Linked DNA regions of Homo sapiens: region 1 is linked to region 2. The links come from fine-mapping of genetic effects on gene expression. A gene starts in region 2. The other region holds a variant in brackets. All regions are shown on one strand. Distances are from middle to middle. Region 1 holds the start of LOC105370640 (a long non-coding RNA gene). Region 2 holds the start of SYNE3 (spectrin repeat containing nuclear envelope family member 3).

Region 1 (17,215 bases), 120 kb after region 2:
CTCACCCCAATCTCATTGTCACCAGTCTAGGTCAGCATTGGAGGGAGGTGTGGGCAACTACAGCCCTTGCTGCTTCCAAGACAGACATCAAAATAGTTGATCACCAACCTTTCCCACTCCCCACTCTCTGACCCAATGGACCTCACAGTCCTCAAAACTACTCCAAGCTACTGCCAATCAATCATTTTCTTATGTGAGCAAAACCTGTTTGACATCCTTACACCTGTACCAGCCCTCTCAGAAAGCTCTCAATTCTGGTCTCCTTTTCTTTTTTCTTTTTTTTTTTTTGAATTTATGTTAAAATTAGGATGTTCCCAATCAAAAAATCATTTTTCCTTCATCTAGTAATTGGGTGAGACAAACTAGCCCCAGAAAGCAGACAATGGGATGAACTGCCAAGTAGGACTTTTAGGGGAGGCAAAATGGATTAGGAAATGCTAAGTTCTCTGTTGAAGGAGGATACCTGGATTCTTCAGGCTGTCAGAGTTGGAGGGCTTCCATAGACTGTCTTGTTCCAACTTTGTACCCATTTTACAGGTTAGGACTCTGAGACCTCAGCAGTTCTTGTTTGGCCAGTGAGCTCAGGGAGTTAGTTCCAGGAGTGGGGGTCGGTCTCTGCACCCACTGGATGACAGCTTGATACTGCTCAGCACTAGACAGGGTTGAGTTGGAACTCTGCTGCTGATGGGCTGTGTGACATTGGTCCAGTTCCTTACCACCTCCCCCCACCTATTGGTAAGGAGGGAAGTCAGCCCTGGAGCGTTCAGTGCTCCCTGAAATATTAGGTATCCTAGGATTGTGCGCGTGGGCTCGCATCTGGAAGAGAAATCCCTAGATTCAGCCACGAGTAACAGAATCCCTCCTCCCCCGACCAACTTTGGCTTAAACCAGTCAGAGACTTTACTTTTCTCTCCTCCTGAGAAGTCTAGATATAGGCGGTTGCTGGCATCGTCTCCTCAGGTTATGGATGTCAGAGCCAAGGCTTTGCAACTGTCCTTCCTTTATATCACAGTCACTTCATGGCCCAGGATGCTTGCTGTACCTCCAATTTTTCATCTGGGTTCCAGGTAGGAAGAAGGGGAGTGAACTAGACGAATCTGCCCTCCTCATTAGCAGCTTTCCCAGAAGCTCCACCAGCCACTTCCGTTCTCATCTCATTGGCCAGGACTGTGTCACATGTTTTCCCCCACATCTGCAAGGAGTCTGGGAACATGTGCCCCAAAAAGATGGGGGCTCTTCTAGTAAGAATGAAGGGTAGGGTGGCTTGGAGTGGCACTTCGCTGTCTCTGCTACAATTGGAGGAGAAAACCAGAGTTTGTCCTGACCCTCCATGCCTTGGCTGTATGCTCCTTGTGTGGAACTCGAAGGCATCATCCTTGCAGTGTGAGAGTGACCTGCCACCACGGCCTGCCACCTCCTCTCAGGGGACCCTGAGTCCTTCAGGTCTACCCAAAGGCATTGTAGACATTCTTCCTGCAAGGCTTGGGAACCGACAAATAGATCTGCCCAGCTTGCCAGAGTTTTTGTGCAGGAACAGCCCCTCCCGTCTTTGTCCTGGCGGTGAGCACCCAGGGCTAAGCTTTTGAACACTTTCTTTGTGTTTGGATTCAGCCCAGGCAATGCATATTTGCTTTCATTTCTTCTTGAGCTTGAGGAGCTCCTGGGTGCAAATCTTGGAAAATGAGGATCTCTGAGCCTTTCCAGGCCAGCTCTTTGTTTTGTAGCAGACAATTGAGGCTTTGAAAAGGAAAGTGGGTGGGGGCACCCCACAGGTGGCCCTCATCACCCAATTGCCAGTGCCTGCAGGCTGCTTCAGCAGAGGCCCAGAGTCAAAGAGGACTTAAAACCAGCTGTCGTTTCTCCCTTAGCTTCTGTGTATGAGAGAAACGACTTCTGTTTTTCAAAGTAAGAACAAGGAGGAATTTGTTTCTAAAAGAACATTAAAACACAGGCTCGTGGTCTAAAAGCAAATGGTTCAGCAGGATGTTCAGGGCCTTAAAGCACAGTCAGCAGGACTCAGCATCTCCCAGCACCTGCTCTCCGGTTGTCATGGTAACATCATCCCCAACCCAACCACCTTGTCCAGCCGAGAGACAGCAATCATAAGGAGGGACCTCGGTTTCCCCCGAGGATCCTGGGCTTCCTTTCTGAAACGCTTGCTTCTGAGCTCAGCAACCAGGAACACCAGGCCAGCCCATCCCCAGCACCTCTGTGGAGATGAGGGACAAAGTCCTACAGTCCCTCTTCCTGTTCTGATGAGAAAGGGAGGGAAGAAAACATACCCCGAGCGCCTGCAATATGGTCATGACACTTTCAAAAAGCCTGTGCTATGGAGTCATGATCAGAAACCAGAGTGTGGAGAGGGTCAGCAGCCTGCCTCAGAGCAGCCAGCTAGGCGGGGAGTGGTAAATTTGGGACTTGTACCCAGGCATGACTGGCTCCGAGCCCAGTGCTCCACTCTATGGAATGTTCCCTGGGCCTCAGTTGCTTTCCTTTCCTTTGCAGGCCGCGGGCTGCTGCCACTCTGGCAGCTGGTGAGTTAGCTGGAGGGCAACATTCCAAAGCAGGGGCAGCATGCTGCTTTCCTCCTGTGCCCACTCCTGCGGGGAAGTCCGTTGACTCCCACCGCTGAAGGGAGCTGGCAACACCAGGATGAGGTCCCAGGGGACGGGAGCAGGTACCCACTGTCTGTCTACCTTCCCACTGGAAAAGCACGGACAGGCCAGCCCTTGCGGGGGCAGGCAGAGGACAGAGTTGGCTTTGCGCGGTCTCTGCCTGCTGAGCAGTTCCAATTCCTCTCATGGGAGAAACAAGGAGGCAGTCGCTTGTGCATGTTCCAGAAGTTTTACTGGGGAGGAGGAAGCGGACAGAGGAAGCTGTGTGTGCATGTGAAGGGGTGGGCAGGGTGGGAGGGATGCACGCGTATGTGAGCATAGCATGTGTGAGTACTACACACATCTCCATGCAGAAGCACAACTGGGCAGCCCTGGCTTCCAGCTCTGGGCTTCAGCACAACAGACACCAGCCTGTGGTCTCTCAGAAGCCAGGGAGACCACATCGGGCTCAGGACGTTTTACCCAAAGTCCAGAGTTTTTATGCCTCTCCCTGGCATTCTCCATAAAGAAGGGAAGGTCAGATGACCCCTTAGATCTGTGTCATCTGGGAATTTCCTTGGGCTGGTTTAGACACGATGCCCTCTTTTTCTCAGGATAGCAGATAACCTGCTTTGAAAGAGGGCTTAATTCTGTGGGTCCTAAATTTTCTCCTTTCTCTCTCTCTTTCTGTGTGTGTGTGTTGGGAAAATGGCAAGTTTCCAATACCAGCTTTGGAGGAACGATTACGTTTTCCCTCCAATTTCAAGTCCGAAAGACCAGAGCCCTCATTCCAAAGCCCCCCACCCAGATGGATTTTTTCGTTTCATTTGTCATCCGTCCCATGGGAGGGCCCCATGTCTCCTCAGAACCCATCCTGGAGGCAGCAGGTCGGGTAGAGTGAGTTTGGCCTGCTCATGACCTCCACCCCTGAGATTGTGAACAAGGATGTCTGGGGCGATGCTGAGAATGTTTTTGAAGCTGCTCCCAGATGACGCTGATGATCACACCAGATTGAGTGCTGCGATCGCCTTGAGTCCAACCTCTGCATAAACGAGGTTCTCATAAACAAGTTCACTCTACCCTAAGCTAAGTCTATGTGAGCAAACCCACTTCATCCTTTGTACCTGGAGACCTGGTTACACTAACCTGATACTGACCTGTTCATGTAGCTGGAATGGTGTGTTTCATGCAGTGTGGACCAAGCAATGGCATGGGGTGTGTGTGTGTGTGTGTGTGTGTCTGTGTGTGTGTGTTTGTGTATGCGTTCACACTTGTGTGTGTATATGTGCATGTAGATGCTGCATAAATGATTTTTGATGTCAAAGACAAACACATTCCATTGTTTTAAATATTCTATTATGTAAACAATACGCAGAGGGACCATATCTACTCTTGTCATATTATTTGTGATGGTAAAACATGCATTTGCAATAAATTAAGCTTTCTGGGAAGGCAAGCAGTATTGGAGCCAAACGACTGTCTCGGAACATGTGTGTGTTATCTCGGTTCATATCAAGTCCAAAGCTAATGGAGCCTTCCCCGCCATCCAGGGAGGAACACCAGGACCCCGGAGTTTCTTCTTAGTGCTATATTTTAAAGTTGCATTGACGTTTTCCTCCCCTTCCTTTTGTGCAAGTTGGAAGTAGCAGTGTTCTAAAAGATGGTTTGACGTTTTTGCTGTTGTTTTATGTTTTTAAAAATGTATCTGCTTTGTGTTTGGAAATAAAAATCTCTATTTTGGTCTATGAAATACTGTGTGGTTTGGAAATTCGTTTTCTGAAGTAAAGGAGTTTGTCCAAGAGGTTATGAGAAGAAAGATGACATGTGGCTAAGGCTGACATTGTAAAATTCTGACTTCCAGTTCAACCTCTTTCATGCAGAGGTTGAACTCAGGGCGACAGCAACACTCAATCTCATGTGGATATCAGCCTCATCTGGGAGCATCTTCAAACACATTCTCAGCATCTCTCCAGACCTCCTCGTTCACAGTCTCAGGGGTGGGGGTCATGGGCAGGCCAAGTGGATACTGAGAATTCCAAAATGCACTCTGGGTGCATTTGGTAGAGAAACAGCACCCCCAGTAGATCCAGGCACTAGCCCAGATAGAGGTAAAAGGACGCCTTTCCAACCATTTCACTCCCAACCCCAGGGATCAAAGCCCCACCAGGACAGTTTATTTCACAAAGAATTCTTGGGTTTGGCTATCTGGTTTCGTAACTCACAGTGCACTGGAAGCTGCAGAGGAGAAGGGGAGGACACTGCGAGATGCAGGAGAAGCCAGAGACACCATCCTGACTTTTGAGGGCAGGTCTAAGAAACCGGCAAGTAAACCCAGGAGCTGCCACAGGCTAACAAAAGCTCCTAACAAGGACCTTGGTTTGCCAAGAAAAGGAAAATGTATGTCAGAATCTTCTGCTTACCAAGGAACAGAAGTGTACCCTTCAATTCAGAACACTGTCATTAGAAGGATTTAAAATAAAATGGTTTTGCCTCTAGTATAATTTGTTCTCCCAAGTGAGAACTTTTAAAAAATTTGCTATTATTTTAATAATGTGTGTAATACGTTTCCTAAGTTTTTTCCATCTCTGTGATCTTAAACCCTTCTCACCCTTTGGGAGGTGAGGCGGGATAGGGGGTGGGGGGACTTGAGTGAGAAGCATTATATCTGTAGCCCCTCACTCCTTACATGACTGGTAAAGGAAGAGACAAAGTTTTAGTCTCCATATGAATCCAAGTGGAGTCCAGAGCCGTGCATGAGACTTTGAACTGTTGGTGCAAAAGTTGTTACAGGCTGGAAGCGGTGGCTCATGCTTGTAATCCCAGCACTTTGGGAGGTTGAGGTGGGCAAATCATTTGAGGTCAAGAGTTCAAGACTAGCCTGACCAATATGGTGAAACCCTGCCTCTACTAAAAATGCAAAAAAAAAAAAAAATAGTCAGGTGTGGCAGTGCACACCTGTCGTCCCAGCTACTTGAGAAGCTGAGGCAGGAGAATCGCTTGAACCTGGGAGGTGGAGGTTGCAGTGAGCCAAGATCACGCCACTGCACTCCAGCCTGGGCGACAGAGTGAGACTCCATTTCAAAAATAATAATAATAATTATGGTTTTTGCCATCAAAAGTAATAGATTTGGATCTGGTTCAGTGGTGCATGCCCTAGAGTTAAATGTCATTCAAATGAGTCTCTGAGTTTTTGACTTGGTGAAGCAGTTCTGCAGAGAAAGGGCAAAGGGTGGGAAAGTCTGTTCTTTTAGGAAGGAGGAGCGGTCCTTGGTTTTTCCATCTGCCTTGTTTAGGGCAGATGAAGCCAGGTTGCCAGCACTCCTATAGAGGACCCTGCAAATGGAAGAATCACTTTCCACTATCAGGCCGCAGCAAGACCACTGCTGGCTACAAGGAGTTTACAACTGAGGGAGGTGATTTCACCCAGCATATCGGGATCCATTGTCTAAAGTCTTAGAGTGGTGCTAAGTACCCTCACAGAAACACTTGTGAGTCTTGTGGCCCCGAATAACAAGAACCCTTACCTTCTAAGTAGTTGTCCAAAAAATAAAGCAGCATGCTTTTTGAAGAAAGACAGAACTCTGTCCACGGGGATGCTCTGCCTTTTAGGTCTATATGGAATTGATCACGGCATAGCCCTGTTTAGCTGATCTGAAGAAGCCTTAATCCGTATAACATAAAGGTATGCCACGTGTCATTTATGTTAACTAAACGTGGTATACATGTTTATTTCCACAGCAGAAGCATCAAACCTGGGGTCAGGAACTTCAGGGTTAAAACGCTGTTTCAGTGAGAAAACTAGATTTACCCTTCCTTGTTTTAATTTAGCACCTTTTGTGGGAACCCAGCCCACTGTGAGAGTAGCATTAAACACACACGGTTTCTAAATCTTTACTGAGTTCTCTAGTGTTTCTGGCTGGACGACTCATTCATTTTTATGACCGTGTGATTTTTTTCACAACCAGGCGTCCCATGGAAATAATTATCTTACCTCAGTTTTCATCCACGGCTTCCAAGCCCAACCATGACATGGTTAATTGGAGAGATCCATCACCTTCTCGTGGAATCCTCTTGGTGAGAATGTTACTCAGCTACTTGGCCCTGCCAGCCTCCTCTGTCACTGCCTCTGCAGCCCTGGCTCTCCGTCCTGCTACCTTTCATTATGCTGCAAAAGGAGAGACCCCAACTTGCTCAGGGCTTCCGGGCTGGAATTCCGTATTGCAGTTGCATACTGGCGTGCATCCTGGTCCCTGCTCCCCGCTCCAGCTTGGTTTTCACTGTGGCCTGCTGCTGCTAATTTCTAATAGGAGGGCTCCTCTACCAATGGACAGCGAGGGAAATTGCTCTAAATTGTTCTGAGACATGGCCTGTCTCATGCTATCTGTTTCCTCTCTTTGGGCTTGTGCAAATCACTGAGGCCCTTTTCCTTTGGAATGAGGTGATGGGATAACAAAAAGTAAAAAGCAACAAACCACAATGCTGAATGCAATGTGGAATCCTGCATTGCATCCTGGAACAGTGAACAGGCATTAGTGGAAAGGCCAATGATACACAGATCAAGTTAGCAGTTTCATTAACGCTATTGCACTGGTGTTAATTTCTTGGTGTTGACAAATTCCCCATGGACATGTAAGATGTTACCGTTAGAGGAGACTGGGTGTGTTTGTCTATTTTTGTGTAGCTATAAAGAAATACCTGGAGCTGGATATTTATAAAGAAAGGAGGTTTAATTGGTTCACAGTTCTGCAGGCTGAACGGGAAACATGGTGCTGGCATCCACTTCTGGTGAGGTTCTAAGGAAGCCTACAATCATGGCAGAAGGTGACAGGGAGCCAGCATGTCATATGGCCAGAGTAGGATCAAGAGAGAGAGGGAGAAAAGTACCACACTCTGTTAAACAACCCGATCTCTGTGAGCAAGCATTCACTTATCACCAGGGGGATGATGGCGCTAAGCCACTCATGAGCAATCTCCCCCGTGATCCAATACCTCCCACCAGGCCCCACCTCCAGCACTGGGGATTCCATGAAATCTGGAAGGACAAACATCCAGAGTGTATCACTGGGTGAAGGTTATGGGAACTTTGTGCTGTTTTTGCACCTTTTCTAAATGATTCCAAATAAAAATTTTATTTATTTTTTTTTGAGACGGAGTCTCACTCTGTCGCCCAGGCTGGAGTGCAATGGCGCCATCTCAGCTCACTGCAAGCTCCACCTCCCGGGTTCACTCCGTTCTCCTGCCTCAGCCTCCTGAGTAGCTGGGACTACAGGCGCCCGCCACCACACCCAGCTAATTTTTTGTATTTTTAGTAGAGACGGGGTTTTACCATGTTAGCCAGGATGGTCTCGATCTCCTGACCTCGTGATCCACCCGCCTTGGCCTCCCAAAGTGCTGGGATTACAGGCGTAAGCCACTGCGCCTGGCCAAAAATTTTATTTATTGTTTGTTCCATTTTATTTCATTTCTATTTTCATTAGAATGAAATGAATAGAATCTTATCAATAATCTGTTTTGCCAATCTAGTAAATGAAAAGATCTGAATTTTTAAAAGCATTGAACATTTCAAAAACTGATTTTGCAGTTTTTAATGATATCTTTATAATCAAGAAATAGTAAAAAGTTACATGCTAAATAATGGCATGTTCCAAAACAGATTAGTCTTCCCTTCCAAGTGGCAAATTCAGCAGTATTTAGGACAAGCACTGTATGATTTGAACACTAGAAAAATGTCTATTTCCTTCTTTTTTCATCAGCTTACATATTTTCTTTCTTTCCACACTTAAAATTCTTTTCTTTTAATGGACAAATAGTAATGTTATATATTCATGGGGTACACAGTGATGTTTTGATACATATAATGTAAGTGATCAGATCAGGGTAATTAGCATATCCAGCATCTCAAACATTTATCATTTCTTTGTTTTGGGAACATTCAGCATCCTTCTTCTAGCTATTTGAAACTATATACTGTTGTTAACTATAGTCAGCCTACAGTGGTGTAATATTCTAGAACTTATTTATCCTATCTAGCTGTAATTTGTATCATTTAACAAGTCTCTCCCTATGCTTCCTTCCTCCTACTCTCCCTAGCTTCTAGTATCCCATTTTACTTTTTACTTCTATGAGATCAACTTTTTTTAGCTATCACATATGAGTGAGAACATGTGGTGTTTAACTTTCTGTTCCTGGCTTATTTTGCTTAACATAATGTCCTCTAGTTCTATCCGTGTTGCCACGAATGACGAGATTTCTCTTTTTTTAATGGCTGAATGGTATTCCATTGTGTATATATCCCATATTTTTTACATCCATCTGTTGTTGGACACCTACGTTGATCCCATATCGTGGCTATTGTGAACAGTGCTGCAATAAACATGAAGGTGCAGATGTCTCTTCAATATAATGATTTCCTTTCCTTTGGATAAATTCCCAGTAGTAAGATCACTAAAAATTTTATTTTTAAAAATATGATTTTTTATGGCCCTGGAAAAAAAATGTGAAGTTTCTCTTTTGCTCTTAACTTACTCCCTTAAAAGTGACGGTGAAACTGTTCTAGGAACAGGCTTGGAATCATCCTGATCAGTGTTTGGCTCCAAGCAACCAAATCTGCAAGGCATTGGACCTTAACAAAGTTCTCCCATCTTCTGGAATACTTATCTCAAAGGAATGTGGTTGGGCGGATTAAATGGGATAGTATGTGTAAAGGGCTTTCACAGTGCTCAGCCCATAGGACACACTCCATAACTGGAAGCTATTTATACCACCCCATCCCAAATGCCTTCCTGGGTCATGCTAGGCAGGTTCTGAAGAAGTATCTTCTTTTACATTCTCTAGGATGCATACTCTGACCCCAAAGTACTGCCCTGCAACTACTGCCAGGAGTCCGGGATCTCCCTTATGGGCTTACAAGTGTCCTGAAGATGCTTGTTAAGGGGAGAGTCTAGAATCAGTCAGCAGTCAGTTGCAAAAAACAGAATCCACTCTAACTAGCTTAAGGAGAAAGGGATTTATGATGGGGTATAAAATGGCTCACAAAATTGTTGAAGAACAGACTCTAATCTGAGATTTCAGGAGGAGCTCAGCCTCAGGACCATGCTGCCTCTTTCATGGTGGAGAAAGTTGCTGCTGCTGCCCCGCAGGAGGCTGCCAGACAGGGAGAATACTGCAGCTGCGGACTAAAGGCCTCGCCTCCGTTGCACTGCAGCAAAGGGGTGCCCATGTCAAGCTGTCTCCTCATGCACCTCCCTCCCACACTCAGCATCATGAAGGAGAGTTGGAATTGGAAAAACCTGGTTCACATTTAGAACACAGCAGCAAAGGAGGCAGGGATATGCCATGTTATTTATTTTTTTAAAAAAATGATTTTTTTTTTAGAGACAGTCTCCCTATGTTGCCCAGGCTGATCTCGAACTCCTATCTCGGCCTCCCAAAGTGCTAGGATTCCAGATGTGAGCCACCACACTCGGCCAATGCCATTTTAGCTTTACCCTTCTGCATTATGGGAAAACATCTTGCAAGGAGTTTAATGGGCAATTAATAAGCAAATCTACAGTATCCCCCACGGCCCATGCCTCTGGATACTTCATGTCCCGGTGTACCCCAATTTCCATATTTAAACTTCCAAGCAAAAACAGCAGTGGAAACAATAGCTCCCATATTCCACCTAATGCACCTACCCCCGTATGAGCAAGTGAGTGCTTAGCAAAACGTCCCATTTATCAATATATCCATTTCTGTGCTCTGTTAGTTTTCCTCTGGTTCATTCACAATTTTACTTGATGTCCTGAAGTCTGTGAACTAAATTATGAGGTTAGCTGTCGCATCCCTGCCACCAGGCCTGCTTGTTCATGGGCAACTGAACTGACATCCAGTGATGTCTGGACACCTGATTATCAAGAGCCTTCTCTCCACAGATGGACTTTTGATGATCATTCAAACAGTACATACATATCGTTATA[C/G]CCAAGATCTCGCTGAAAGGGCTACCCATATATATTTTCCTCAAACTTCCATGTTATCAATCCCCATTCTTGTCCTTTTCGAGCCCTTGACCATCCTTAAGGAAAGAATCAAGTAAAGAATATTTAAATAAAAAATATCACTGAGCTCTTTTTTTTTTTTTAATTTTTTTTGAGATGGAGTCTCACTCTGTTGCCCAGGCTGGAGTGCAGTGGCGCGATCTCGGCTCACTGCAACCTCCACCTCCCAGGTTAAAGCGCTTCTTCTGCTTCAGCCTCCCGAGTAGCTGGGAACTACAGGCGGGTGCCACCACACCCAACTAATTTTTGTATTTTTAGTAGAGACACGGTTTCACCATATTGGCCAGGCTGGTCTCGAACTCCTGACCTTGTGATCCACCCCCCACCCCCCCACACCCGGCCTCCCAAAGTGTTGGGATTACAGGTGTGAGCCACCTCACCTGGACTATTAAGCTCTTATTATACATCAAGAATAAATAAAATGGTGAACAAAACAGAAACCCCCAAACCCTGCCTTCCTGGAGCTTACTCTCTGGTGCTGGGTACTGCCCATTCTTCTGTGTAGATCTGTACTCTCAGTCATTTCTCCTTCTAGGCAAAATGAACTACTAAATACACATTTCAAAGACAGTGGGGGACGTTCCTTCCCCATTGTCTTTCATCAGCAGCCTTCACGGGGGCTGTAATCCTATAGCATTATACATCTGACTAGTTGCATTATATCAGGCAAGGTCAACTAGGCTCAAATACTTTTTTTTTTTTTTTTTGGAGACAGAGTCTCACTCTGTCACCCAGGCTGGAGTGCAGTGGTGCGATCTCAGCTCACTGCAACCTCCGCCTCCCAAGTTCAAGCGATTCTCCTGCCTCAGCCTCCAAAGTAGCTGGGACTACGGGCACCTGCCACCACGCCCGGCTAATATTTTGAATTTTTAGTAGAGATGGGGTTTCGCCACGTTGGCCAGGCTGGTCTTGAACTCCTGACCTCAAGTGATCCGCCTGCTTGGCCTCCCAAAGTGCTGGGGTTACAGGTGTGAGTCACCATGCCTGGGCTCAAATTCTTTATTCTGATGCCAAGTGAAGCTGTGAATGCCAAGTGGATGCCAAGTGAAGCTGTGGGGTGGGCTGAGGGTTAGGGGTTTTGCAGCAGAAGTAGTCATCCTGGGGGCTGTGGACCATTGGTAAGGCCTGCATGTTTATTTCCCCCAACTCCCAATTCATACGTTGAAATGCTAACCCGCAAGGTGATGGTATTAGGAGGTGAGGCCTCTGGAGGGTGATTAGGTCATGATGGTGGAGCTGTCATGCATGGGATTATTAAAATGACCCCAGAGGGAGAGCTTGCCCCTTCAACCATGTGAGGACACAGCAAGAAGGCACCATCTATGAACCAGGAAACGTGCCCTCACCAGACACCGAAACTGCTTGTGCCTTGATCTTTGACTTCCCAGCCTCCAGAACATGAGAAATAAATTTCTGTTGTCTATCAGCCACCTAGGCTATGATATTTTGTTATAACAGCCCAAATGGACTAAAACACCCACATACACATGCAGCTCACAAAATGACCAAATAAGACACTGGGCAAAGATTTCAGGCCTGGGCATTCATTCAGCAAGTGGACCATGGCACTGAGGACAGGCAGTGTGAGGTTACCACCCATGAGAAAACTGGACAAGCATCTGCCGAGGTCCCTCCAGCCTACAGGGCTCCTGCTCCCCTGAGCACTGCTCCTGCTATGGAGTTCTTCTCCGTTGCCTCATTTTGGACCATCCTGGAAAATGGACCCTCTCTCTGACCACAGTCTGTGATTGAGCGCCATACACCTGGGATTCCAACCCCCAATCTCTGCAGGCCAGTTTGTGACCTCAGCTCCGCACTTCTCACACAACACCGCCATGGCTCTTTGTTTGCTGCCTGTTCTGTGCTCTCGGCTGCTGGCACTGACCTTCTTGTGTTTGCTCCTGTTTGGGGTTTCGTAAGTTCAGATTTGTCTACTTGTTTGTTTTGATTCTCAGCGCCTCGGACAGGAGTAGACCTGTGGGTCAAATCTAGCTGCCACTAGTTTTCACACAGTTCAAGGAGTAAGAATGGTTTTTAAATTTTTAAGTGGGTTACATTTTACATGGTTATGTAAGTACCAACAAAATAGCTTTAATTTTGCCTCTTGCGCTACAAAGTCCTAAAATATTTACTCTGGTCCTTCACAGAAGCGTTTGTCAACTCATGCTCAAGGACATCGCTCGTGCAGTTTCCCACCTGATTAATCCATGTAGCCAAGCTGTCCATCCCCAAATCCCAGCAAGGTCCTTCCCTATGACCAGCTCCCCAGCAGGCTGGCTGTGACCTCCCTGAAGGGGTCCAGGGAGAAAGCACACTGGCCGGGGAGGCAGGAGAAATCGGTTCCAGCCTCGCACTCATCACCAACTTGCTTTGTGACTTTTGGTAAGTCCCATTCCCTCTCTGTACCTCAGATCCCTCTCTGTCAAACGGGGAGTTTCGATGTGAATCACCTTGGAAATCTCTCACAGCACTGCCAGTCCTCGCCAAACCATTGTTCTCCATAACCATGAGGAACATGGGAGAGAACAAGGCATGGGACTGTCCCAGGGACCCCAGGATCGAGCCCACGATCAATTCTTCATCCTAGGGCATGGGTGACAGGTCACGCGGGCACACAGACACACATGCTATACACTGTAGACACGTGCACGCACCTGAGTGCCTATGCACACACACCCCTTATTCATGCACCACACACACAGAGGCACACATAGACACAGACACACTCCACACACACACACCTACACATACACCACATAACTGTGTGCAAGTACACGCACCACACACAACCATGCACCACACACAGAGGCACACACGGACACGGACACACTCCATACACACACACACACACACGTACACATACACTACACACCTGTGTGCAAGTACATGCACCACAAACAACCATGCACCACACACAACCATGCACCACACAGAGGCACATATAGACCTAGACACACTCCATACATACACACACTTGCACACATACAATCACACACACCATGCATACACACACATGCCACACAGACAAAACACACACCACACACAGATATATGCACACATGCCAAACACACCCACCACACCACATACAGGCATACACACATGGATGCACCACATACAGACACACACATACACATCATAGACACATGCACATGCTTGCACATACCCCCCACCTGCATACATGTGTGTACACACCCCCCCACACACCAAACACACACAGATGCACACATACACTACACATACAGATACACTACATACCACACACAGACACCACAGAGGCACATATGGATACAGATAGAGACAGTCAACATACACAATTGCCAGACATGCAAGCCATATACACAGGTGCGCACCCACACCACACACACAGAGACCTACATAGACACAGGCACATGGTGCTCTGGGCAAAGTGTTGTGACCGTGTCTCACGGCTTGTCAGGTTGGGAGCCGTAGCAGAGCTCTGGGGGTACATCCCTGGGGGATCCCTCCTCGACTCTGGTCTGATTAAGTCAGCTCTGCAGAAACCAGAAAATTAAATTTGGGGCCATGTCTGTCTTCCGGATATGGTGCATAATTTCAGGATTACTCTGGGTAAAGAAAAGAGAAAGGGCTCTTTTCTTTTTTTAGGGTTTGGAAAGGAAAACATGGTTGTGTGGGCTAACGTGTATTGCTGGGCGAGGTCTTCAGGGGTATGGTTCGGAGCCATGAGGGAGGCGTCTGTGCAAGCAGCAAGCCTTCCTTTTTGGGGCCAGGTAGGGGGTCGGTAATGCAGAGGTTATAAAGAAAGAGATTGCATTTGATTAATGAAATATTTTCTTACAATCATGTTTTTGCTGAAATGCATGTTCAACCCTGACCAAAGGCCAGGGAAGCCAAATGCAAAACATACAGTGTGCGGTTGCCAGAATATCTCCCAAGCTACATTTTAATATATGTCAAAATTCAAATTTACCCTGGAGTCAAGGAAGTCAGAGAGGGAGACCTTTGCCTTATGGGTACTGCATACCATGCCTAATAAAATGATAATGCAACCTTCACAGTTTGCTAGGCACTTCCACCCACAGTCTTTCATTTGATTCTTACAATAATGTCAAATGCTTTTTCGTCTCTTCCACTGAAGAGTAAAACAAGGCTGAGAGAGGTAGAAAGGTGACCCCAAGATCATAGCCTGAAAATGGCCTTGCTGCCGTCCAGCCCTGCCCTCCAGTGATCTCTTGTTCCAAACCTGCAACACAGCAACGAAGCAAACCCACTGTTTATGTCTCCTCATTTGCAATCCCAAAACTATCAAGAGCAGATGAGAGCAAGCCCTTAAGGTTAATAGAGCAGAGTTAGGGAACCCTGAGCAAAATCTCTTATCCCTGAGGTACCTGATTGGTTATCTGAATGGCTGCCAACACAGAGCACTGTGTTAAGAGGGATTCTGAGGCTGTGATCAAGGAAAGAACTGCATGATCTCTTGGTGATATCTCCCATGACCGTCGTAGGGAGGGGCTTATTGTCATCTTCACTTTGGCCTCAGTTTCATTATCTATAAAGGGGAAGGAATTGCTCTCAATCTGGGTCTGTGAACTAACATGCCTACAGAACCCAAACAGGAAACATCTGAGCAGACCAGATGTATTAGTTTGTTCTCGCACTGCTATAAAGAACTACCTGAGACTGGGTAATTTATAAAGAAGAGAGGTTTAATTCTCTCACAGGTTCTACAAGCTCTACAGGAAGCGTGGATTGGGAGGCCTCAGGAAACTTACAATCATGGCAGAAGGTGAGGAAGAAGCAGGCACGACTTACGTAGCTGAAGCAGGAGGAAGACAGCGAGCCTCTGCTACACACTTTTAAACAAGCAGCTCTCATGAGAACTCACTATCACAAGAACAGCAAGGGTGAAGTTTGCCCCCATGATCCAGTCACCTCCCACCAGGCCCCTCCTCCAACATTGGGGATTACAATTCGACATGAGATTTGGGCAGGGAAACAAATCCAAACCACATCCCCAGACCAAGTGTAAAAACATCCTGAAAGAGGGAAGGTTGGGATCTTTGTCCAATCATTGCCATGTGGGGATGTGGGCTTTGGATTAGAGTGACAGTTTCTCAATCATTCAAGATTTCACATTATAATGTTAAAAAAATTTTTTAGGTGGCAACTAATTTGAATATTGTTAAAAAATACCTGTGCTAACATGCGTGTGTACGCATGTGCTGTCAGGCTGGGTGTGGCCCACGGACCATTGCTTTTCAAGCTTTGGTTTAAATAGTCCCCAAGATTCCTTTCATTTCAAAAATTCTAAAATTCTGTGTGGGATGCAGGTCCACAGACTAGGTGCATGTGAAATGTTTCTCAATAGATCTAGAGTTCTAAACTCAGTCCCTCACCCACGTGGGCCGAGATTAGTTTGAGCACCTGCTGTGTGCCTATTGGGCTTCTACAGACATTGTCTCACTCAGGCTTCATGACTAGTCCAGCTGGCTCTTCTCCCTTATTTTGCAGCTGAAGACACAGGCTCAGAGAGATGACTAATTTATCCAAGGTTGCCCAGCACATAACCAAACTGAAATTTACTCCTTGGTGATTTCTCAAGATTTTGGTTTCATGATGGAAATCCCATGACATAATCAGCACTCGGTGGAAACTCAATGATAAATGGGTAAAGCTTGGGAGGGCTTCACCCCAATATTGTATCTAGATCCACTGTGGAATTTCCAGCATTCCCAAGGATTGTAACTTGATCGTCTTCAATGAAGAACCCAGCAGGCATTATCAGGCTGGGCCGGTACTGGCAGCCCCTGGGTGAGCAATTTCTGGCAGGCATCCAGCCCATAAAGTGTTCTAAAAGGTCGCTTGGTTTTGGCTGTTGGTAGAAAGTGGGAGAGATGGAGAGGCCCCGAAAGCTGGGGTCTTTCCCATCTGTTCCACATTACAATGCTGTTAAATATGTTATGATGTCCATTGTACCAACAAATACAAGCAGAACTAATCTCTTTGTTTAAGGTTCCTTGACTGACATCATTGGTAATTAGATGACATACTTATTTTCTCATGACAAGAGTGGACTGGTTCAGTGAGAGGTTTGGAAAGAGTACAGGCTCTCACCCACGAAGTTTAGTGGGAAGTATCTTGATGCTGATGGATGTGAAAAACGACAGCTCCAGGGATGGGGATGGAAAAGAGAAATGCTTTGCCATTGTCTCAGCCACAGAGATGAAATCTAGAGGAGACTAAAGACTTTCTGAGTGTCTATTCATTCATTCATCCATCCATCCATCCATCCATCCATCCATCCATCCATCCATCCAATTATCCATCTATCCATCCATCCATCCATCCATCCATCCATCCATCCATCCATCCATCCTTACATATATCCATACATCAAGCCAGCCATCCATTCACCCATCCATCTATCCAACCATCCATCCATCTTTCCATCCATTCATCCATCATCCATCCATATATTCAACCATCTATTCATCCATCCATCCATCCTCTGTTCATCTCTCCAACCATCCATCCATCCATCCATACATACATACATACCTTCAACCCTCCATTCACTCATCCATCCATACATCCACACATCCATAC
Region 2 (14,096 bases):
ATGCAGGGAATACAGCGGGAGGGGGAAGGAGGATTGGAAAGGTAAGTTCAGGAATTACTTTTGGACATTTCTGTTTCCAGGTGCCTGAGGAACATCTAAATCATCAGGTTATGTCTGAAATAAAGGGAGAGAGTATGCAGATTATTGCCTCTACGGGTCTGGATCTATTGATAAAGGAGATTTGGGCGGGTGGGGGGGCAAGAAGGAGTGCAGAGAAGAAAACCTGGGGAACGCATATCGCTGGGGAGGGACAGGCCATGAGGAGAACTAGGAGCAAGTGCTTTAGGGAAGAGGAATTTACCAGAAGCCACAGAGGGCCTGAGCATGAGGGCTCACACCTGTAGTCCCAGAGCTTTGGGAGGCCGAGGCAGGAGGATTGCTTGAGGCCACATGCTCTAGACTAGTCTGGGCAACATAGTGAGGCCCCATCTCTAGAAAAAGTTTTAAGTTAGTTGGGAGCAGTGGTGTGTGCCTATAGTCCTAGCTACTTGGGAGGCTGAGGTGGAAAGATAACTTTAGCCAAGGAGTTCTAGCCTGCAGTGAACTATGATAGTACCACTGCACTCCAGCCTGGGCAACAGAGCAAGGCTGTCTCTTAAAAAAAAAAAGGAAGCCACAGAGAGAGGCCAGGTAAGGACCCAGGGTCTCGTGGATTTTGCAATGGAGGTAAACACAGTGTGGGCTGATGCAATCAGTGTTTGCTGCCCTTGGGCGCTTCGCTTCACCTCTAAGGGGCTCTGCAACGTGATAGAGTTGGGCCAGTGAATTTGTCAGGTGTCTTCTGGCTGTTACTTTTGTCTGTGTGTGAACCTTTGTTTTAGGCCATTTCTGTAGTTAGTGAACAGAGCAGATAGAGTCCAGTCATTTTGCAGAAATGTTTCCATTTGGATGATGAAACAAGCTTGATTGCTGAAGCTGGTGCACTCATCCCATTGGCATGGTGCTAGCCGAGACCTTTGAAATACCTGAGGACACCTCTTGCCTGTTTATAGAGGTTGCTTCTGTCTGCTGAATAGGGCTTTGTAATTAACCAGGAGGTGCATTTAGCGACACTGGCCATTTTTCTCTGCATACCAAGTCTACAACATCAAAGAAGAAATTTAGGATGAAAGTTCTTTAAAATCTTAGGCCAGGTGCTGCAGCTATTGCCATTGCAAGGACCTGCGGCAGTCCTGTTGGAAAATGTTTGTTCTGCATGTGTTCCATGCCAGTTGTTGGCAATAAGATTCTAAGGTTTTGGAACTAGACTACTGCAATGAAACAACTTTCTCTGTTAGGGAAGTGTCCTGGGCTGTCAAGAATTATCATCAAGAGCAGCAGGTTTTATAAGATACATGGACCTATTTGGCATTTACCAGCCCATGCCGCTAGGATAGAGGGACAGGGCTGGGCCCCAAGTGTGGGCTTCCCGGAAGAGCCAAGCACCGGCTGCTCATATGGGATGGGTGGGGGTGGTGCAGGTGCCCTGCATGGGTTCCACTGCCCTAAAGAGGGTACAAAGGCCACACCTCCGTGTGTCTGCCAGGGCTGGGTTCAGAGCCTCCCTGGCTTCCTGGGCACTCTGCCTATCACACAGCGATTCCAATATGATCACATGTTCAGAACAGCCACACTTGTCAAAGCAAGGAGAGAACACTTCAGCAACGTTCAAAAACATGTCTCCAGGGATTAAAAAAAAAACACGGAAAGCTTCATTTTCCTCCCTAGTGGGGAAGTCTTCCTTACTCACAGCCTCTTCCTGAGTTGGTGTCTGTCGTGAAGCATTCTTTGGAAGCATAGTAAGCGGAGGGTTTAATTTACCATAGTCGTACACATTTGCACAGAATCTAAAGTTTGCAGTGCGTTTCATCATCTTTATGTGAATCTCATGCAGCTCTTACAGGGAAAACAGGAAGAACTGGCCCCATTTTCTAAATGTGGAGACAGGAGGAGGTGAGATGGCTCGCCTCTGCCCAGCCGACTGGGAAATGCAGAGCTCAGAGAGACAGCAAGTCAGGAGATGTTGATCCAGGGAGCTTTTCACTCTGCCACCCACCCCATCGATGGAAGCACCGACATTATCAAGGCTGCATTTAGATTTCAAAACAAAAGCAAGCAAACATGCCGGGCTCGTGGTATGCTGTTGTTTTAACCGAAATGATACAGCTGAAAGGGTGAGCAGCCATCAGTGCTGTGAGCGAAGCGTGATCACACATCTTGTATGTTTAGCAACTCAGGAGGTAGCTGAGCCTGGAAGTGACTTTCCTGGTATGTAGCAATTCAGAGAATACAAAACCACATTCATTATCTGAAATGGGCTCAGCTGCTTCTGTGTTTTATCATATAGAGCTGGGAACTTTGATGTGTGTGGTGTGTGCGTGTTTTGCTGCATATACAGATAATCACACAACTGGAGGCTTCAGCCTTGCTGTTTACACACACACACACACACACACCCCAGCAGATACATCACACACAGACTTCTCACCTGTTACGTTACTAACAGTGGTGCTGGTTTGTTTGAACAGTGTTTGAACTTATCAATAACCTTCCTCCAGAAGGCTCAGCATAGCTATAGCATATGCTGTGTGTGGAAAATATAACCTAAGAAACAGAATGGAATTGAATCATGACCACTATTGCTATGAGACAGAATCCACAGCGATGGAGTGGGTGCTGGGGTCAGACTGCCTGAGTGTGTACCCTAGGTGAGTCACATAATAGCTGGGTGAATGGCCAAGTTTTCACCTTTTTTCCCTCATTTGGAAAATGGGATGATAATAGGAGCTATCCTGAAGGGTGATGATGAGGGTTAAATTAACAATATAGGTAAAGGCTTAGAACAGTGTGTGGCAGATGGTAGGTAAGCCCTTAATAAATATAAAATATCATTATTTGTGTCCATCATTTGAGATATATCTCACATCTTATCCAGAGGACTCCCCAAACACTCGTGTTGTCACTTCTCTTTCCTGTCTCTGGGTTCCTCTACAAGTCAGTTTTGTACCATGCAGTCTCGCATTTGATGACATGCAGCATTACTTAGTTCTGTGAATGATTCGTGTGTCTTAATGTCACTTCCCCAACAGACTGTAAATTTCTTGATGGCAAGAACCATGTAACTGGTTTTTGTTAGATTTCTGCAACTCAAGACCCAATCCTGGGCAACTGTTGGACACTTAAACATCCTTCATCACTAGCTGCGTTCATCACTAGGAAAAAGTAAGAGAAATCTGATGGTATGGGATTGTAAGTGGGTATTAGATCCAACAGCTGAAACTTAAGATGTGAAGATGTATATTGACACACATGTGCGTACAAAATGTTTATAGCAGCTTTATTGATAATAGCCAAAAACCAGGAACAACCCGGATGTCCTTCAACAAGGGAAGGGTGACCCAGCCCGTGATGCATCCGTCACACTGTGGATTGCTGCTCAGCAACGAGGAGGCACAGACTCGATACGGGAGCCAGCCTGGGTGACGCTCCAGAGAACTACCCTGAGTGGAGAAGGGCAGTCCCACCGTGTGATTCCATTATTATCACATTCTTGAAATGACAGAATTATAGAAAGGAGAACAGAGGAGTGGCTGCCAGAGTTTAAGGAGGGAATGGGGAAAGGGGGAAGAGCAGCATGCGGGATCCTTGTGACGGAAGCGTTTTGTGTCGTGTGGGTGTCTGTCAGTTTCCTAGCTGTGATACTGTACCATTGTCTTGTAAGATGCTGCCATCGGTGGAAACTGGGTAAAGCATATAGGGGACCTCTCTGTATGATTTCTTACAACTGCATGTGAATTTACAGTGGTCTCAAAATAAAGCATTTAATTAAACAAAAAACCCACATGCATTTAAAGTAGTCCCAACAGAAGCAGAAAGAATAGACCAGGCTTCCCACTGTTGGGAGAAACGAGAAACATGGCAGACCTCTTCCAGAAGAATTTTGTATATTTTCTTTGTTTTCTGTTTTTGTTTTTTCTTTTCTTTTCTTTTTTTTTTTTGAGATGGAGTCTCACTTTGTCACCCAGGCTGGAGTGCCGTGGCCTGATCTCAGCTTACTGCAACCTCTGCCTCCTGGGTGCAAGCAATTCGTCTACCTCAGCCTCCTGAGTAGCTGGGATTACAGGCACCCACCACCATGCCCGACTAATTTTTTTTTGTATTTTTAGTAGAGATGGGGTTTCACCATGTTGGCCAGTCTGGTCTTGAACTCCTGACCTCAGGTGATCAACCCTCCTCGGCCTCCCAAAGTGCTGGGATTACAGGCATGAGCCACCGCACCCAGCCAGATTTTATTTTTTAGGAATAAAATTTATCAATTTTCCTTTAACACTTTTGTTTATCTTAGTATTTATTCCTTGGAGTATAATAGTAGTGGTGTTTAGTTATGTTAAATGATGATTGTTTAATACAAACAAGATCTTCTTTTTTCAAAAAGATATATAATGGAGAGAGAGAGAGACAGGGTCTCACTCTGTCACCCAGGCTGGAATGTAGTGGTGCAATCATGGCTCACTGCAGCCTTGACCTCCCAGGCCTAGGCAATCCTCCTGCCTCAGCTCCAAGTAGCTGAAACCAGGCATGCACCACCCTGCCTGGATAATTTTATTTATTTATCTGTAGAGACGGGGTCTCACCATGTTGCCCAGACTTGTCTTGAACTCCTGGGCTCAAGCGACCCTCCCACGCTGGCCTCCCAAAGTGCTGGGATTACAGGAGTGAGCCACTGTACCTGGCCAGCCAATACAATATATATATGTATGCGTGTGTGTGTATATATATATATATATATATATATATATATATACACACATACACACAATATATCATAATGTATTATGTATATTACATTACATATATTACATTGTATATAATACTGTGTGTGTGTATATATATATTTCTTATAGTTACTTAAATTGGGGGAATAATTTAGAGAAAATCTTTTTTAATTCTCTCATTTCACAGATTCAAAAACTTAGAAGTGACCCAAGGTTACACAGCTAGTTAGCAGCCTTAACAAGAGTTAGAACCCCATCATCCGAGAATCCAGTCCTGTATGTTATATATAATTGTATTTTATAAATGCAGTACAATTAAATGTATGTAGAGGAATATTCCAAGTTACTCCAGTTCCCCTGCTTGGTACTGAGATGACTCATTGCCACCCAGAGGGGTACCTCTGCTCAGTTGATGGGTGGCAGCTGCCCATGAGGAAGTGAACAAACCAGGGTGCTGGCTGTGCTCACCCTAGAAGCACATGTAGCACCCAAGTGGGAAAGGACAGGCTAACACTTGGAGAACCGGCAAGGAAAAAACAAAGAAGAAGGAAAAGTTCAGAGCAGAACTGGGTTGAGAACGAGCTCTCCAGGCTCAGACCAAGACCTCTCTGATGGGGCACCCCAGAAGTGGGCACCCTTAATGTGAGCTTTTCATCCGTATTAAGCTGAAAGCACTTATGTACTTCACCACTAAGTGGGAAGCCAGGCTAGAGATGGAGAGATGGGAATGTAAATGTTCTGAACAGCAATTCCTATCCTGGAACCCTGGGCAATGCCCCTCGTCCCTACTCTCTTGCCTCAGTTTACCCATGAGGTGTTTTATTAGCCAGAAAAGCCATTGCAGCTTTTGTTGTAATCTATCTGTGGAGACTGAACACACACACACAAACAACTGAAAAAATCATGCTTACAAAATGAGGATTGTGCAGATTGCCACTGAAGCTGGCTAACCAACAGCAAATGTGAAACAGACCCAGATAATTTCCCCAGGCTTATTAAATTGATTCCTGCTTCCCCATGAGTGGTGGTGGAGATGCTGGCTGCAGGGAAGGGACAGAGGGAAAGAGTGGTAAAAACTTCGCTTTTTGGAGGACATTTGGTACGTTGCACAAACAGCCCGCGCTGCCAAGTGAGTCAGAACTTCCGAACAGCATAATTTTAGTGCCCTTCTTGTGGTTCCCTCTCTGGGCTGCTTCTGAAAGGAAGGTCTCAGGGCGGGGTTTCCTGTGTTCAATTCCAGAGATGACAAAGGGGCTCTTCCCCCAATCCTTTGCCAGATTTTTTTTTCCAGATGGGTTTTCATGTCCACCCCCTTATGTAGCTGCAGGTAATGCTGAAGACGAAGGTATTGTGGACTTCCTAGTTGTAAACTGCCCCATCCCTTCGCATTGCTTACTCAACTTTTGTTTTCCTTCCATGTGGACTACTTTGGAGAGAAAAAGATTGGCATCAAATAAAAAATAGGGTTCTGTTTTTGATGTGATGTTTATGTCAGGCTTAAGAAAAGTAATGGATGGCCGGGCATGGTGGCTCACACCTGTAATTCCAGCACTTTGGGAGGCCAAGCAGGCAGATATCTTGAGGTCAGGAGTTCGAGACCAGCCTGGCCAACATGGTGAAATGCTGTCGCTACTAAAAATACAAAAAATTAGCTGGGTGTGGTGGTGTGTGCCTGTAGACCCAGCTATTCAAGTGGCCGAGGCACAAGAGTTGCTTGAATCTGAGAGGAGGTTGCAGTGAGTCAAGATTGCACCACTGCACTCCAACCTGGGTGACAGAGCGAGACTCTAAGAAAAGCAATGGAATGGGAGAGTATTCTGAAAAGCAGCAAGCCCTGTAAAGCCCAAGATAATAACAATCACATTGATAATAACAAAACTATCTGCACAGTATTTTGTACTTTATAAAATATGTTTATCACATGTGTTTTCACCTATGAAAAATTATTGCTATCCCCATCTAACAGATGAGAAAAACCAATGTTGTAAGAGGTCACATTCAGTGTAAGATTAGACTGTATGTGCACACTGTATGTGTAACAGAATCTTACAGTGTAAGATTCACTCAGCTAAATAAGTAGCAAAGCTGGGCCTGGAAAGTGAATATCTCCACTGCTCTGAACTGGTGCTCTGCACTGCACCGGCAGCAGGAGGGACAGTTCATCTCTGTGCACCATGGTCCCCTGACACAGAATTATTACACCCTGACCTCCTTGGAGGTAGTAGTCTATGCCTCATTCTTCTTCATATTCCCAGAGACTAGCACATAGTAGATACTCAGGAATGTTTGACGAAAGACTGAATAGCTGTATGGCAGAAACTGTAGCAATCATACCATTCCCAGAACCATAACATAACAGCTCGCCTGAGTTGGGTGCTCAAATACCAGGCACAAAACCATACAAGATAAGCTCCTATTATTAGATCTATTCAACAGAAAAGGAAACCAAGTATGAGTAATCAGCTGAAAGTTGCAAATTGGGCACTTTGGCACTAGAGCCTGAGCTCCTAACTGTACCCAACCATCTCTTCCTGCAGGACATTGAGTTACAGTGGCCAGCTCCACCCTTGGAGCAGCCTGGGGGAGCCATCTCTCTCCTTGTGCAAGTCACCTGCCCTCTTTGTGTCTTGGTTTCCCTTGTCAGGCAAAACTCATTAAACTTTTCCTAACTACCTGGAGGATGTTTGCAGAGATTTAATGAGGAGACACATTTGAAAGCATTCTGAAAAGCAAAAAGCGCGATCCAGATGCAGGCATTATAATCATTGTTACTCGCTGCCTGCACCTGCAGTTTGACTGTGGCAACCTCAAGGCCTTCGGCAGCACTTCTAATTGAGCCACAGTGATAATAACACATATAATAGCATACTTGGAACCAGTCAGTCGCAGGGAGATGGGAGGGGCCCTGTGTATATCTTCAGCAACGCTGTGAATAATTACAGCTTAATAAATGGGATCTAACTAAGAGGTGTGGGTCTACCTCAGAGTGAATCCTGGGTTTTGGCTAATTCTTCTACCTCCCTCTCAATTTGGAAAAGACATACACACACACACACACACACACACACACACACACACACCGTTAACTATCTTGTCCTGCTTTACAATTTAATCTCTTAGGATACTGACTTTTACACGGATCTGTTCTACAAACATCTGCCATCCCTGCTAAGAAACAAAAAAGGAAAACAGCATCCCGGAAGCCCTGGATTTGGGCCAGTTACTAACCCCGCATCTGTAAAATCGCTAGCCGCACCTAAACTGTGATGACTGGAGTTCACATAAAACCTAGTTTTACAACTTGTATCCTTCATTAGTAGCGCTCATCTGATCCAGAGGCGGTGAAGCCAATCATGCAACCATGTAATTACTCGGAAAAAGATAAGGGTTGGGGCCCAGGACTGTTCAAAGCTGGGCTGGATGCACAGGAAGGCCAGTGACTGCTGACCTGGGAGGAGAGCGCCAGGGTGCGAAGGCTTCCAGCCATCAAGCAGTAGGAGTTTGGCAGAAGGCTGTGGAGCAAACGCCGGGCCAAGGCAACTTCATGTGCACAGGCACAGAGGCAGATACAGTTTAGACATTCTGGGACAAGGTTAAAGGGTTGGCGTGGCTGGAGCAGGGGTTGGGAGAGTGGGAGGATGTTTCTGCTGGTGGGGAGGGAGAGGTGAGGCGCATTCTGAGGCCTTGGGTTTGTTGGGGGTTCACATTATGCCTGGGGATTCACATCCCTTGTGACTCCTGGACTGTGGGCCCGGACTGTGGGGGTGGGAGAGGACGGGCAGGGTGCCACTACCCCCCACCCCGCCCTTTCTCCCCGCGCGAGGCTGGCTGATGAGTGTCATTTTCTTCTTGGATTTCGCGCCTACGGGCGGTGTGCCCCTTCCAAGGCCCCCACCTCCGCTCTGTGAGGGCAAGATCTGCCGGTGTCCTAATCCCTTTTCCATGTCTGGGCGCACAGATCCAACTTTCCCGGAGAGGCAGCTCCGCGCCATCCCCTAGGATGAGAAGAGGGTGGGTGGCTGTGTGTGTGTCGGGGAGACAGACAGGGGCCAGGGCTCCGGGCTGCTTTCCAGGCAAGCGTGGACAGGACCCCCCCCTTAACCCCCGCCCCGGGTCCGCGACAGGGAGCGGTGAGGCTTTTCTTCGGCCCTGGTCCCCGGGGCCACGCAGGATGTCCGCCGGGCTGGGGTTGCGCACCCGGGGCCTCCGCTGAGCGCGTGCGGAGAGGGGCGCGGCCTCTCCCGCGGGGCCACCGGGCGGGTCCCGGCGGGGGCGGGGGTACTCGCGGTGTCCGGGCCCGCCCCAGCCCTGCCCCGCCCCGGAGCCGCCCGGGACGCAGGGAGGAGGGAAGGAGGCTCGGCCCCAGCTACCCGCGGCGCCGCGCTCCTCCACGCTCCGGGAGGGTAAGTGGCACGGGGCCGGGAGGCCAGGCCTGGGGCCGGGGGCCGGGGGCCGGGGGCCGGGCGGGTGGGGTCCTCAGCCCCTGGCCCAGCTCTGACACAGCCCCGGGAATCGGGGGCGCCGAAAGTCTGGGGGACCTGGGGAGGCGCGCCCGGCGCGGGGGCGGGGGCCCCGGCGTGACAGCTGCGGGCGGGCGGGTATTTTTAGTTTAAATCCAACCGTTCTGTGCTGGCTGCGAAATTCCCGAGCCTTTCCTTTCAACCCCGGGGAGCTTCGGCCGGCCCACAAGAAAAAGCCCTAAAGCCCCGGGCAGCGCGCCCCAGCGGGCCGGGTGCCTCCTCGGGGCTTCCCTCTGCCTCCCCTAGGGGCGGGCTGACCTGTCACCAAGGCTTGCGCGCGGCGGGGGCCCAATCCGCTCCTGGCGACCGCGAGCGCGCTCAGTAGTGCCTGGGAGAGCAGAGCAGGCGGCGAAGAGGGGAAGTCCAACCCCGAATGCTCAGTTTCGTTCAGACGCCTTTTGGCTATGCAAACTTGGCAAGCAGCTCAACCTCTCTGAGCCTCATTCCCACATTTCTAAAGGGGAGGGCAGTGAGGCCAGAGATGGCTTGCAGGGCCTGAGAGAGCCTCAGATGGATGTTGACTTCCCCTGGGGTCTTGGGATCTTGACCCCAAACAGCAGACCCATTGATGTGGCCCATTGGTCAACCCGGGAGCAGTGTCCTACACCGCCCAGCTGACCTCTGCTTCAAAACTGGAAGCCAGGGGCCTCCAGCCTGGGCGGGGTGATAATGAATATTTTCAGTTAACCACTTTGGCCCTGAAGCTCCAACCCTGGGCTTTCCTGGGACTCTCCCAGGTTCCTGGTCACCCCTTTCAACTCTGAAGGGTCACCCTTATCCCTGCACTGGGTGGGGGGGCTTTCTACAGCCAAGGGCTGCTAGTGGGATAGCTTGATGTGTCTTGGGGGCATGCCCCATCCCACATGAATGAGGGCATGAGGAGAATGGACCGTCCTCCCAGAAAGGAGAGCATGTCATAAAATCACTGCCATTCTGAGCTTGGCAGGACAGCGTCCTTCATCCACCAAGAGAAGCAGAAACAGGCCCAGAGAGGGGGAGTGATTTGCCCAGAGCCACACTGCCTGGCTCTCTTGAAGGGCCTGGGCTTGCCGCCTGCACTTCCAGGGCAGCCAACAGCCCATAGGAGTCAGGAGCTGGGAGGTGGGAGGGGCATATCAGTGCCAACGAGCTGTTTTGCTCAGTTTCCTGTCACTGTGCCCCAGCGGGATGCTCCAGCACATGTGGGTCTGCACATTCCTCAGGCCGGACGGTGCTCGGCAGGCTGACAGCCACAGCTGTGCCAAGCCTGCTGGCCCCAGGCGTTGTTTTCAACCAGAGAGGCCCCTCTGGGGGTGGCTGAGCGGGAAGTGGGCTGGGATGTCTTATTTCTGGAACTCGTGTCTTGCTGGGGGTCCTGAGAAGAAGGCCTGAGGATGTGTTGGTGGCACAGAGGGAAGTGGTGAGAATCCAGGCTCAGGTTTCTGCCTCCAGGTACAGTCTGGCACCTGGCTCCCTGCAGGTACACTTCAGAGTGAGTTGGAGTCCTTTCTGTCTGTCTCCATGGGAACAAGGCTCCTGCTCGGGTGCTTTGCATGCTCTCCAGCAGCCATGGACCTGGCCATGCCTGGGCAGCCCCTTTGCCTTGTGATGCAGCCTGGAGCGGGCTGCCGGGGGGCCCTGGCTTGGCGGCCCCGGGAGGCAAGACTGGGCAGGCCCAGCTCAACGTCAAAAGCACCCTGGAGCCTTTGGGAACCCACTGGGCAGCTAGGCTTCCCGCATTGTCCAGCTGTTAGGAATGGGGCAGTCAAGTTGGATTGCCTGAGTCCAGTCCTGCCTTAGCCCGTTCCTGGCTGTGTAGCCTTGGGAAAGTTGCTTCACCTTTCAGAGCTTCAGCGTCCTTCCCCGTGGAAAGGGGCTAACCATAGCACGGCAGGTGTTGCCTCGCAGGGCCTCATGAGCACTAAACGAGCTTTGCCCTGATCAGCATTTTGTATGGTGTCAGACACAGCACATGTGAGAAGGTGTCACAGTTTGAGGCGAAGGGGCCTCGTCGGGATACCTGGGTTCCCCTCTGCTCTGCCTCTGCCCCTCTTCTCCCTGCCTTGATTTCCCCTTGTCTGTCAATGGTGGGTAGTCCTGGCTCACCCCCCTCATGGTCCTCCCAGCACTGAAAGCTGGCCCTTGGCCCCAGGGAGGGCAGGAGGCTCTTGACCCCAAACAGCTGACCCATTGATGTGGCCCATTGGTCAACCCAGGAGCAGTGTCCTACACCGCCTAGCTGACCTCTGCTTCAAAACTGGAAGCCAGGGGACTCCAGCCTGGGCGGGGTGATAATGAATATTTTCAGTTAACCACTTTGGCCCTGAAGCTCCAACCCTGGGCTGCCCTGGGACTCTTTCCCAGGTTCCTGGTCACCCCTTTCAACTCTGAAGGGTTCTAGAGAAGCCTACAGAGGGACTCAAATGTGTTCGTGGGGTCTTCCAAAGCTCTTCCTGCCTCTCACCTCCTAGGATCTGGTAGTAGGCAAGGCTGTCATTGCTTGCCCATTTACAGATGAGAAGGCTGATATCCAGCGGCTGGATGTGGTACAGCCAGGATTAGAACTAAGGGCTTTTGACCTGATGCTCTTCCTGGCACCACATGGCCTATCTTAGACAATCCAAGGACAAAGTTGTACGTTCATCACTGGGAAAACAGTACTGACCGGACAGGATGCTTGTCTTCATTAAGTCATCAGTACTTGCTGGAAAAGAATATGGATTCTGAATATATATATATATATATATATATATATATATATAATCTAAGCAGCCTGACTGGACCACAAAGATAGGAACCCAGGAGCAGCAGTGTTTCCTGACCCTCCCATCCTGAAAGGAACCTTTGCTTTAGGACTTAGGGATGATGTTCTGGGGCTGAGCAGCTAGGAAGCTAGGAAGTGGACGGGGGACAAGTTTGGGAAGCTGATGCCCTAATTTTGACCTCTTGAAATACTTCCCTTTTGGGGTTGCTGCGAAGATAATTGAGGTAACTGGGGATGATGCTTTAGCAGAATGCCCGGCATGGTGCGGGCACACCATAAATAGGACTGATGGTTTTTATTATTACTAACCCTCTACTATCATTGTAACACCAGAGTGCAGCCTGGATCTCTCGCCTGGGTTTCTAGGCTGCAGACGTGGTATAGAGAATCCTAGCATCTCCATGGAGAACTGCTAAGGCAATTATAAAAGCTCAAAACACAACCAAACTAAGCAATGAGTTGTTTAGTGACACATAGCTGAGAAGTAAAATGACGACAAAAAGCAAGAAGGTGATTAGCTTAAATAAAAGCCAAGCATTACCACGCGTGCTGAGGAAAGGTGAGAGAGGATCAGGAGAGTCGGGGGGGCAGTTACAAAGGAGATCACTTTGTAGTTACTGGCTAATTACATGTATGTTTTATACATGCCTTTATACGTAGATTCTATTTCACAAAGTTAAGCTGGTTTAAAAAAGAAAAAGGCAAGGGAATGATAATGCAAAATCAAGGTGATTATCTTTGGGGAGAAGTGGGTAATTGATCAGGGAGATGTCTGTTTCACTCTCAGTGGGATCCATTATGTTCTGTTTCTTCAGTCCAGTGGTAGGCTTGTGAGTGTTATTTTTTATTTATTTTATGTATGTATTTATTTATTTTTTGAGACAGAGTCTTGCTCTGTCACCCAGGCTGGAGTGCAGTGGCCTGATCTCGGATCACTGCAAGCTCCACCTGCCGGGTTTACGCCATTCTCCTGCCTCAGCCTCCCGAGTAGCTGGGACTACAGGCGCCCACCACCACGTCCGGCTAATTTTTTGTATTTTTTTTTTTAGTAGAGACGGGGTTTCATCGTGTTAGCCAGGATGGTCTTGATCTCCTGACCTCGTGATCTGCCCACCTCAGCCTCCCAAAGTGCTAGGATTACAGGCATGAGCCACCGTGCCCAGCCTATTTATTTATTTTTTTGAGACAGAGTCTCACTCTGTTGCCCAGGCTGGAGTGCAGTGGCACAATCTCAGCTCACAGCAACCTCCACCTCCCAGGTTCAAGCCATTGTTCTGCCTCAGCCTCCTGAGTAGCTGGGATTACAGGCATGTGCCACCATGCCTGGCTAAGGGCGTTATTTTTAAATATTTTTATGCTTCATTATTTACAAATAGGAGGCGCATATATTCCATTATATATATATAATCTTACATAATACAAATGAAATTAAAAGATCATGTGGAGCATTTTCAGATGCTTTCTTAGAAAATCTGCCTCTCTCCTCAGATTCCAATGTTAATCTGGCTGGATTTAAAAAATAAAGCAAAAAATTCTGTTGTATGACACATGATTTTATGTGTCATAAATCTTTATGTAGGAGACACGATCTTTAATGTAGGAGACATGATCTCTGTCTTCCCAAATCATACAACAAGTAAGATAATAATAACACTCTATGACCTCAGATGATCAACAGGATTTTTAAAGGTCCTGGCCTAATGATTTATGCTTCTGAATCATAAAATCCTGAAATATTTGAGCTGGAAGGAACCTCAGGTCACCTGGACCAATCTACTGGTTTTATAACAAAACGAAGTGTCCTGGCCGAGGTCACACACGTAGGGAATACACTTCTCTCCAGGCTGCCACAGCTGTGTGACTCTCATGCAGACACCACCCGACAGACAGACCAGTGAGAGTCTTGGGTCACAAGGCTCCTCCTTAGGGCACTCAGGGAGAGAGACGGGAAGTATACCTGAGATTAAACTGATAGGATCATTTTATTTATTTTATTTAATTTATTTATTTATTTATTTTTTGAGAAGGAGTCTTGCTCTGTCTCCCAGGCTGGAGTGCAGTGGTGTGATCTCAGCTCAC

The links. PIP is the estimated chance that this variant, and not a neighbour inherited with it, causes the effect. A credible set is the group of variants that fine-mapping cannot tell apart.
Region 1: its variant is the best candidate, but not a certain one, in a credible set for the expression of SYNE3 in whole blood (INTERVAL, PIP 0.66).

The regions. Positions count from the first base shown.
Region 1 is chr14:95,394,395-95,411,609 of GRCh38, reverse strand. LOC105370640 (a long non-coding RNA gene) reads left to right here and starts at 6,504. Exons shown (of 3, transcript XR_944174.3): 1 at 6,504-6,668; 2 at 12,778-13,012; 3 at 15,331-15,447. It overlaps SYNE3 (spectrin repeat containing nuclear envelope family member 3), which reads left to right. Exons shown (of 18, transcript NM_152592.6): 18 at 1-4,344. The variant C/G (reference allele first, on the strand shown) is at 10,553.
Region 2 is chr14:95,511,657-95,525,752 of GRCh38, reverse strand. SYNE3 (spectrin repeat containing nuclear envelope family member 3) reads left to right here and starts at 9,103. Exons shown (of 18, transcript NM_152592.6): 1 at 9,103-9,157. It overlaps SYNE3-AS1 (SYNE3 antisense RNA 1), which reads right to left and starts at 9,633. Exons shown (of 2, transcript NR_188030.1): 1 at 9,533-9,633; 2 at 7,842-8,749. RefSeq lists a cis regulatory region at 1,242-1,644, enhancers at 1,667-1,961, 7,274-7,423 and silencers at 8,848-9,657, 9,407-9,701.